Regions from separate parts of the Homo sapiens genome. Here regions 2 and 3 are each linked to region 1. Evidence: fine-mapped expression QTL. A gene starts in region 1. Each other region holds a variant in brackets. All regions are shown on one strand. Distances are from middle to middle. Region 1 holds the start of FKBP10 (FKBP prolyl isomerase 10). Region 2 overlaps KLHL11 (kelch like family member 11). Region 3 overlaps ACLY (ATP citrate lyase).

The links. PIP is the estimated chance that this variant, and not a neighbour inherited with it, causes the effect.
Region 2: its variant is fine-mapped to the expression of FKBP10 in whole blood (TOPMed, PIP above 0.99).
Region 3: its variant is fine-mapped to the expression of FKBP10 in lymphoblastoid cells (TwinsUK, PIP 0.95).

Annotation. Positions count from the first base shown.
Region 1 is chr17:41,811,869-41,814,711 of GRCh38, forward strand. It overlaps FKBP10 (FKBP prolyl isomerase 10), which reads left to right and starts at 1,136. Exons shown (of 10, transcript NM_021939.4): 1 at 1,136-1,411. The coding sequence starts at 1,167. P3H4 (prolyl 3-hydroxylase family member 4 (inactive)) reads right to left here and starts at 81. Exons shown (of 8, transcript NM_006455.3): 1 at 1-81. The coding sequence starts at 47. RefSeq lists a silencer at 1-200 and an enhancer at 341-450.
Region 2 is chr17:41,861,268-41,863,767 of GRCh38, forward strand. All of the region lies in intron 1 of KLHL11 (kelch like family member 11), which reads right to left. Among named protein-coding and RNA genes, the nearest start is that of KLHL11, 2.9 kb to the right of the region's middle. RefSeq lists an enhancer at 2,087-2,500. The variant G/A (reference allele first, on the strand shown) is at 1,396.
Region 3 is chr17:41,865,867-41,868,709 of GRCh38, forward strand. It overlaps ACLY (ATP citrate lyase), which reads right to left. Exons shown (of 29, transcript NM_001096.3): 28 at 2,843; 29 at 1,052-2,038. The coding sequence ends at 1,944. Among named protein-coding and RNA genes, the nearest start is that of KLHL11, 1.9 kb to the left of the region's middle. RefSeq lists enhancers at 1-241, 242-742. The variant T/TA (reference allele first, on the strand shown) is at 1,498.

The DNA.
Region 1 (2,843 bases):
GCGCTGCCCAGCAGCAACCACAGCAGCCCCCACGCCACCCGAGCCATGCCCGCCGCGCCGCCGGCTCTCCGGAGCTGAGCTGGCTGCCCCGCGGACGGAAGGGGACAGGGCCGGGCCCCGGGCGGGCGGCGCGCCCGCTGGGTCTTAGCGCCGGGCACGAGGCGGCAAGGTGGGGCGGGGCCTGGGTCACGACGTCTCCCCTCTTTTCCCAGAGGGTCCGATAGTGTCGTTAAGTCCTCTCCGTCGGCCCGGGCTCCTGCCTTGGGGGTGTCCCCTAGGTAGAGAATGCGTCGGGGAGCGCTTCCCGCCAGAGATGGGAAGCCCAGGAAGCCCCTCCCCATGCAAACAGTGCCCCCGCCTGAGATCAGGACACTGAGTGAGGGCCGCCTCCTCTGCGCTGCCCATACGAGAAGGAAGCCCTGGAGCCGGGCCTTCCGTCGCTGCGCCCTCCTGCACCCTCCGAGTGTCTCCCCCGCCCACGTCGGAGGCACACACCTGCTGTCACCTGCACACCTTGCGCTGCCACCACCCCCCACTCCATCTCCGTGCCCGTCACATCCCAAGTCACAAAGTCCTTCTTTCAGTCCAGCTTTTGCGGGACCAAGCTGCTCTTCCCTGGAGATGCCTTCCCTTGGAGTACAGCTGGGGTCACGGATGAGCACGGAGATGCCTCTCACACTCCGCGGCTTCACCACCCACCTGGAGGGGACTAGAATTCGAAGTGCCCGCGAAAGAAGCAAGGTTCATCTCCGCCCGGCTTTAGGACCCGGGGGCTCCGGAAAAAGTCATTGAACTTTTTTTTTTTTTTTTCCTTTGGTGTCCACTCAGAGTTCTCATCTTTCCCGAGCCTCTCTCCCTGGCCAGGCCCCAGGTCTCGCAGCCAGGGATGGAGATGGGGGGAGGGGGAACCTAGAGTTCTTTGTAGTGCCTCCCTCAGACTCTAACACACTCAGCCTGGCCCCCTCCTCCTATTGCAACCCCCTCCCCCGCTCCTCCCGGCCAGGCCAGCTCAGTCTTCCCAGCCCCCATTCCACGTGGACCAGCCAGGGCGGGGGTAGGGAAAGAGGACAGGAAGAGGGGGAGCCAGTTCTGGGAGGCGGGGGGAAGGAGGTTGGTGGCGACTCCCTCGCTCGCCCTCACTGCCGGCGGTCCCAACTCCAGGCACCATGTTCCCCGCGGGCCCCCCCAGCCACAGCCTCCTCCGGCTCCCCCTGCTGCAGTTGCTGCTACTGGTGGTGCAGGCCGTGGGGAGGGGGCTGGGCCGCGCCAGCCCGGCCGGGGGCCCCCTGGAAGATGTGGTCATCGAGAGGTACCACATCCCCAGGGCCTGTCCCCGGGAAGTGCAGATGGGGGATTTTGTGCGCTACCACTACAACGGCACTTTTGAAGATGGCAAGAAGTTTGATTCAAGGTAACCCCGGTTGGGCGCCCCCGGATTCACCACTCCGTCCCCTGAACCCGGGGTCCTGTTTCCTTGTTGCCTCTTTTAAGCTCTGCATCCCAATACTCTAACCCTAGACAGCACCCCTGGGGCCTCCCAGACACCCATCTCCCCAAAGATACCCTCCTGCCCCCACTTCCAAACCCTCACTTCTCAAAGGATCCCATTTCTTTCTCACAAGCTCTCCACATCCCGGAAAGGACTCGATAATCAAGGTGAACTGCCTTGTGTAGTTACCAGGGCTGTATGTAATGACCTGATGGAGAGGGGTGTTCTGATCTACAGTGTTGGGGGGAAGGGGGTGGTCCCTGCTGCTTAAGAACCCTGGGATGGTCTATCAGCCTGGACCCCGTACCTTTCCACCCACCCTGACTCCCCTTCTGGTTCCACTGTTTTCAGTGCCTTTGTGGTCAGAGAAGAGGGAATAGAACTTTTTTTTGGAGGGGGTGGGAGTTTTCAGCGGCTGGTGGGCAGGGAAAAAGGCTGGTGGGTATTATAAGAAGACAGCCGGCTGGACCTGGGGGTAGCGCGTGGCTCCCTGCGGAGGCCCTGTCTACGTGTCACACAGTCGGACATGCCACCCTGGGCTCCTTGGAGGAATTTCATTCCTCCCTCTCTGGTTCTCCTGGAACCCTCATCTCTCTCCATTTTAGGTACACCAGGCCAGAGGCACAGGCCGCCCATTTTTGCCAGCCTTGGGGTTTGTAAGGTGGCCTCCTGGTCTGACCCAGGCCTTTGGTCTGCCCCAGCAAGTCCACTTTTGTTAGCGGGGACAGGGCAGGGCTGTATGCCAGCCTCAGGGGTAAATCTAGGGTCCCAGTTACACACAGACCCCACAGCACACTGAAAGAAGTCAGTGTTTCTTAGACCCTCCTCTGAAACACACAACTCAGCCCACAGGAAATTAGTGGCCATGACTTTAGAGGCAGGCATATATTGGGGTAAGCCTACAAACTCCAAGAGTCCCAAGACCCTGGTTCAAATCCAGGCTATGACCATGGACAGAGAATTTTGTCTCTTTAGGCATCACTTTCCTTATCTGAAAAGTGGAGACAAAAACAGGACCTACTTGCTAAGGCTGATGTTAGGACTCCAAGGACATGGATGAATGAACGTAGGCTTCTCACAGGGCCTGGCAGTCCTCCAGCCAGTTCAGCACACATTAACATTGACCCTGAGGAAAACCATATGACCTGATGCTGTGGAACTTGTAGAAACTTAATGCAGAGCTTAAGCCTTCATAACAACACTGAGAAGGAAACAGTCCAGACTTAAAACCTGTCTGCTTGGTGGGCAAATTCAGATATAGGGTAGTAGCCAGAAGTGCAGCCCTGAGCCCTTGACTGCTAGGAGTGAGGCAGGGGTTGGGATTTAGGGGATGTCATCCCTGATGGGGACTCTG
Region 2 (2,500 bases), 49 kb after region 1:
TTCTATAACCACAGGATGGTATAAAAACTTCAGTCACCCTTAGAGTTTTCATATTTTGTATGACTCTCGAGCACAAATGTGCCTGTAATAATCTGCTATGCTTTTCTCTGTCCTATATAACCTGTCTTTTATTATAAGAATGTCAGCTGTGGCCAGGTGCGGTGGCTCACGCCTGTAATCCCAGCACTTTGGGAGGCCAAGGCGGGTCAGGAGTTCGAGACCAGCCTGGCCGATACAGTGAAACCCCATCTCTACTAAAAATACAAAAATTAGCCGAGCGTGCTGGCAGATGCCTGTAATCTCAGCTACTTGGGAGGCTGAGGCAGGAAAATCGCTTGAACCCGGCAGGCAGAGGTTGCAGTGAGCCGAGATTGCGACATTGCACTCCAGCCTGGGAAACAGAGCGAGACTCTTGTCTCAAAAAAAAAAAAAAAAAAAAAAAAAGAATGTCAGCTGTGACCCCTTTATGAGAGGGAGGAAAGGGATCACCCCTCTTCCATCCCGACAGTTCCCTTCTTGGTTGCAAGGACTTTACTCCTGCAATTATTCCCCTGCTCCTGTAACACCAATTACTCATCTTCTACTGAATCATTTTCAGCAGCACACAGACATGCTCTAGTATCTTTTACCTTGGTGGGATTGTCCCCCAAAACATTTACACGTTTCTGATCCTCTTTATAAAGCAAGGCTTAACAGCTCTTGTCAATGGCATCTCTGACCTGCAACCATCACTAATGGGTTGACAGAGTTGACACGACTGGCTACTCCCTCCTTGATATCCTTCTTTTCTACGTTTCCATGAGATCAGTCTCCTCTTTAAGATTCTTTTTTTTTTTTGAGATCCAGTCTCTCACTCTGTTGCCCAGGCTGGGGTGCAGTGGCGTAATCTCAGCTCACTGCAATCTCCACCTCCCGGGTTCAAGCAATTCTCCTGCCTCAGCCTCCTGAGTAGTTGGGATTACAGGCACCTGCCACCACGCCCTGCTAATTTTTGTATTTTTGTATTTATTTATTTTTTTTTTTGAGATGGAGTCTCACTCTGTTGCCTAGGCTGGAGTGCAGTGGCACGACCTCAGCTCACTGCAACCTCTGCCTCCTGGGTTCACGCCATTCTCCTGCCTCAGCCTCCTGAGTACCTGGGACTACAGGCACCCGCCACCATGCCTGGCTAATTTTTTTTTTTTTTGTATTTTTAGTAGAGACGGGGTTTCATCATGTTAGCTAGGATAGTCTCGATCTCCTGACCTCGTGATCTGCCCACCTCGGCCTCCCAAAGTGCTAGGATTACTGGCGTGAGCCACCGCGCCCGGCCTAATTTTTGTATTTTTAGTGGAGATGGGGTTTCATCATGTTGGCCAGGCTGGTCAAGTGATCCATCTGCCTCGGCCTCTCAAA[G/A]TGCTGAGATTACAGGCGTGAGCCACTTCGCCCAGCCGGCTATTTTACATTCTAGAGAACCCCAGGGCTCAGTCTTGCCTACTCTCTCCCCGCTGCCCCTTTTCTATGTATACTCCTTAAGTAATACCATCCAGCCCCAAGGCTTTAGTTACCATTTATACGGTAATTTTCCCCAATCTGTATCTCTAGCTCCCATGCACTTCCCAGGGATCTCCTTAACCAAATCCAAAAACTCCTGATCTTACTCCCAAACAGGCTCTTCTGCAATCTTCCACATCTTAATAATTCCATCCTTCCCATTGCTTGGGTCAAAAAGGTAGCAGTCTTTTCCCTTATACCCCACGTCAAATCCATCAGCAAATTCATCTCATCCACTTTCAAAATATATCTGGAACCAGAGCAGTTCTCATCACCTTTACTTCTCCCTCCTCAATCGAAGCCTCCACCACCACTGCCACAACCTCCTACACTAGTCTCTCTGCGTCTGCCCTTGGTGCCCCCTCCTCCCCAATGCCACATCCTTTGTTCTTTTTTTTTTTTTTTTTTGAGACAGAGTCTTGTTCTGTCCGCCAGGCTGGAGTAGAGCGGCGCAATCTCAGCTTACTGCAACCTCAGCCTCCCACCTCCCAGGCTCAAGCGATTCTTGTGTCTCAGCCTCCCCAACAGCTGGGATTACAGGCACACCACCACGCCCGGCTAATTTTTGTACGTTTAGTAGAGACAGGGGTTTCACAATGTTGGCCAGGCTGGTCTCGAACTCCTGACCTCAAGCATCCACCCACCTCGGCCTCTCAAAGTGCTGAGATTACAGGCGTGGGCCACCGCGCCTGGCCGCCACATCCTTTTTTCAGCACAGCACTATTCATCAAATCAGACTGCATCATTCCTCTGCCCCAAACCTTCCCATTTCAATCAGAGTAAAAGCTCATGTCCTTCCACAGGCCATCAAGGCCCTACGGGATCTGGATCCCTGCCCATTACCATCCTGGGGCTTCTCCTGTTCCTCTCATCCTGCATCCCTTTGATACAGCCACACTGGCTCCCCACTGTTCTCTAACATACAAGCTCCACCTCAGAGCCTCTGTACCTGTGTCCCCTACCTGAC
Region 3 (2,843 bases), 54 kb after region 1:
TTTTGGGTTTTTTGTTTTTTTTTTTTTTGAGACGGAGTCTCGCTCTGTCGCCCAGGCTGGAGTGCAGTGGCGCGCTCTTCGCTTATTGCAACCTCCGCTGCCCGGGTTCAAGCGATTCTTGTGCCTCAGCCTCCCGAGTAGCTGGGACTACAGGCGCCCGCCACCACTCCAGGCTAATTTTTTTTTTTTTTTTTTTTTTGAGACGGAGTCTCGCTCTGTCGCCCAGGCTGGAGTGCAGTGGCGCGCTCTTCGCTTATTGCAACCTCCGCCGCCCGGGTTCAAGCGATTCTTGTGCCTCAGCCTCCCGAGTAGCTGGGACTACAGGCGCCCGCCACCACTCCAGGCTAATTTTTTTTTTTTTTTTTTTTTTGAGACGGAGTCTCGCTCTGTCGCCCAGGCTGGAGTGCAGTGGCGCGGGTCTCGGCTCACTGCAACCTCCGCCTCCCGGGTTCACGCCATTCTCCTGCCTCAGCCTCCGGAGTAGCTGGGACTACAGGCGCCCGCCACCATGCCTGGCTAAGTTTTTGTATTTTTAATAGAGACGGGGTTTCACCGTGTTAGCCAGGATGGTCTCGATCTGCTGACCTCGTGATCCACCCGCCTCAGCCTCCCAAAGTGCTGGGATTACAGGCATGAGCCACCACGCCTGACCGTAGATGAGCATTTTTAAAACCATATATACTGAAACTATTAGTACAGTTCAGGCCAGGCCAGGCACAGTGGCTCACGCCTGTAACAGCACTTTGGGAGGCCAAGGAGGATGGATTGCTTGAGTCCATGAGTTCCAGAAGAGCCTGGGAAATACAGCAGAACCTTATCTCCACAAAAAATACAAAAGTTAGCCTGGAGTGGTGGCATGCTCCTGTAGTCCCAGCTACTTGGGAGGCTGGAGTGGGAGGACTGCTTGAGCCCAGGAGATGGAGGCTGCAGTGAGCTGTGATGGTGCCACTGTACTCCAGCCCTGGGGCGACAGAGTGATACCCTGTCTGGAAAAAAGTACAGTTACAAAGGAATACAGATCAAAGGATATGGATGCCAGGAGCCAGCAGTATGCCTTCATTGTTACTATATAGTTTATTTAAACCAGACTATGATAATACAGAGAAGAGACTGAGGTGGCAGCTGCCCAGAATCTTTGTGGATTACAGATGCAAAGTAGTTAGGAGTCCTTGGACCCACACTTCAGTTACAGACAGACAAATCAGCTGCATAAATACAGAGAACATAAGACACAAGACATTTCACAGCTTTCTGCATTTCCATTTTAAATGTATGTATGTTACAACTTTACATATTAAGTTACTACTCCACATATTTTGTGACAATGGCTAAGGATGCAATGGCCCCATCCCCCTGACATAAACAGACTCTGGTCTGCAACACAGAACATTTCAGTGGGATACCAAACAAGCCCTTAACACGTAACATACAAAAAGATCTTTAAAAATCAGATTAATACAATGTTCTTCATGTTATATAAGGAAGAAGAAAGGGAAG[T/TA]AAAAAAAAAAAAAGAGAGACATTGGGGTGCTTTAAATGTATAGTATCTTGAGGCCATAAATGTTTCATTCCCTTCCTCCAAAGGAGAAAAAAATGTTTAACTAATGGAAAAAGAAAGCAACATCCTAACGCCCTACAATGAGGAAGACCCCATCCTGACAGTACTTAGATGCTTCCATATAATAAATACAGCAGGTAGCAGAGCAAAGTCACAAATATTGGCTTGGTTTTTATTTCTATGCTTATAAAAAAAATATGAAGCTTCTTTGTGTGGACTGAAGGGGTGTTAGCCTGTGGATGTTGGTCTTCGGTGCCTGTACCCCAGTGGCTGTTTACATTCCAGGCCCCTGCTAAATAAAGCAGGCTCCACTGCCAGCTGTCTGTACACTTTTTCTTGGGGGAAGAGATCTTGTCTTCAGTTTACTGCAGTAGGGTTCCTGGCTCTGTTACATGCTCATGTGTTCCGGAAGAACATATGAAATATCATCCCACGGATGACGATACAGCCCCTGCTTCAGCCTCTTCTGATCAAGATAGTGTCCTAAAATGAAGCAAACACATCTTTTTTATTAGAGCTTCATAAGCCTGGTGAGAGGAAGAGGCTAAGGAAGGGAAATCTTTCTAACACACAAAAAAAGTAGACACAAAGCAGTGGGAAGTTTAGTCCAAATCCACTGTATAGGTAGATGAGGCGGACTTTGTACAAGGGAGCTGCTGGATCTGATTCTATTTTCCTTTAAATTAAAACAAAATTTTAAAGGGAAAAAATAAAATAAAATAAATAATAAAAATAGGCCGGGCACGGTGGTTCACGCCTGTAATCCCAGCACTTTGGGAGGCCGAGGTGGGCAGATCACGAGGTTGGGAGATCGAGACCATCCTGGCTAACATGGTGAAACCCCGTCTCTACTAAAAATACAAAAAATTAGCCAGGCGTGGTGGCATGCGCCTGTAGTCCCAGCTGCTTGGGAGGCTGAGGCAGGAGAATCGCTTGAACCCGGGAGGCAGAGGTTGCAGTGAGCTGAGACCGCGCCACTGCACTCCAGCCTGGTGACAGAGCAAGACTCAGTCTCAAAAAAAAAAAAAAAAATTTTCCTGGGCTAGCAATCATTTCTAAGAACAAAGGAACAATGATAAAGATAAGGGGAAAGGTTAAAGTAAGAAAGGAAAGATTAAGAACAATGATTAAGAGGATATGACATTTCTTCTGTAGAAACTGAACCACAAAAAGAAAATTAAAAAAAAAAAAAAAGAAAGAAAAAGAAACTCAACCCCATGAGTAAGTGGTGTAGCTGAACCGTGGGGTTTAAAAAAAAACACTTAAAACAACAACGAATGGACTCACC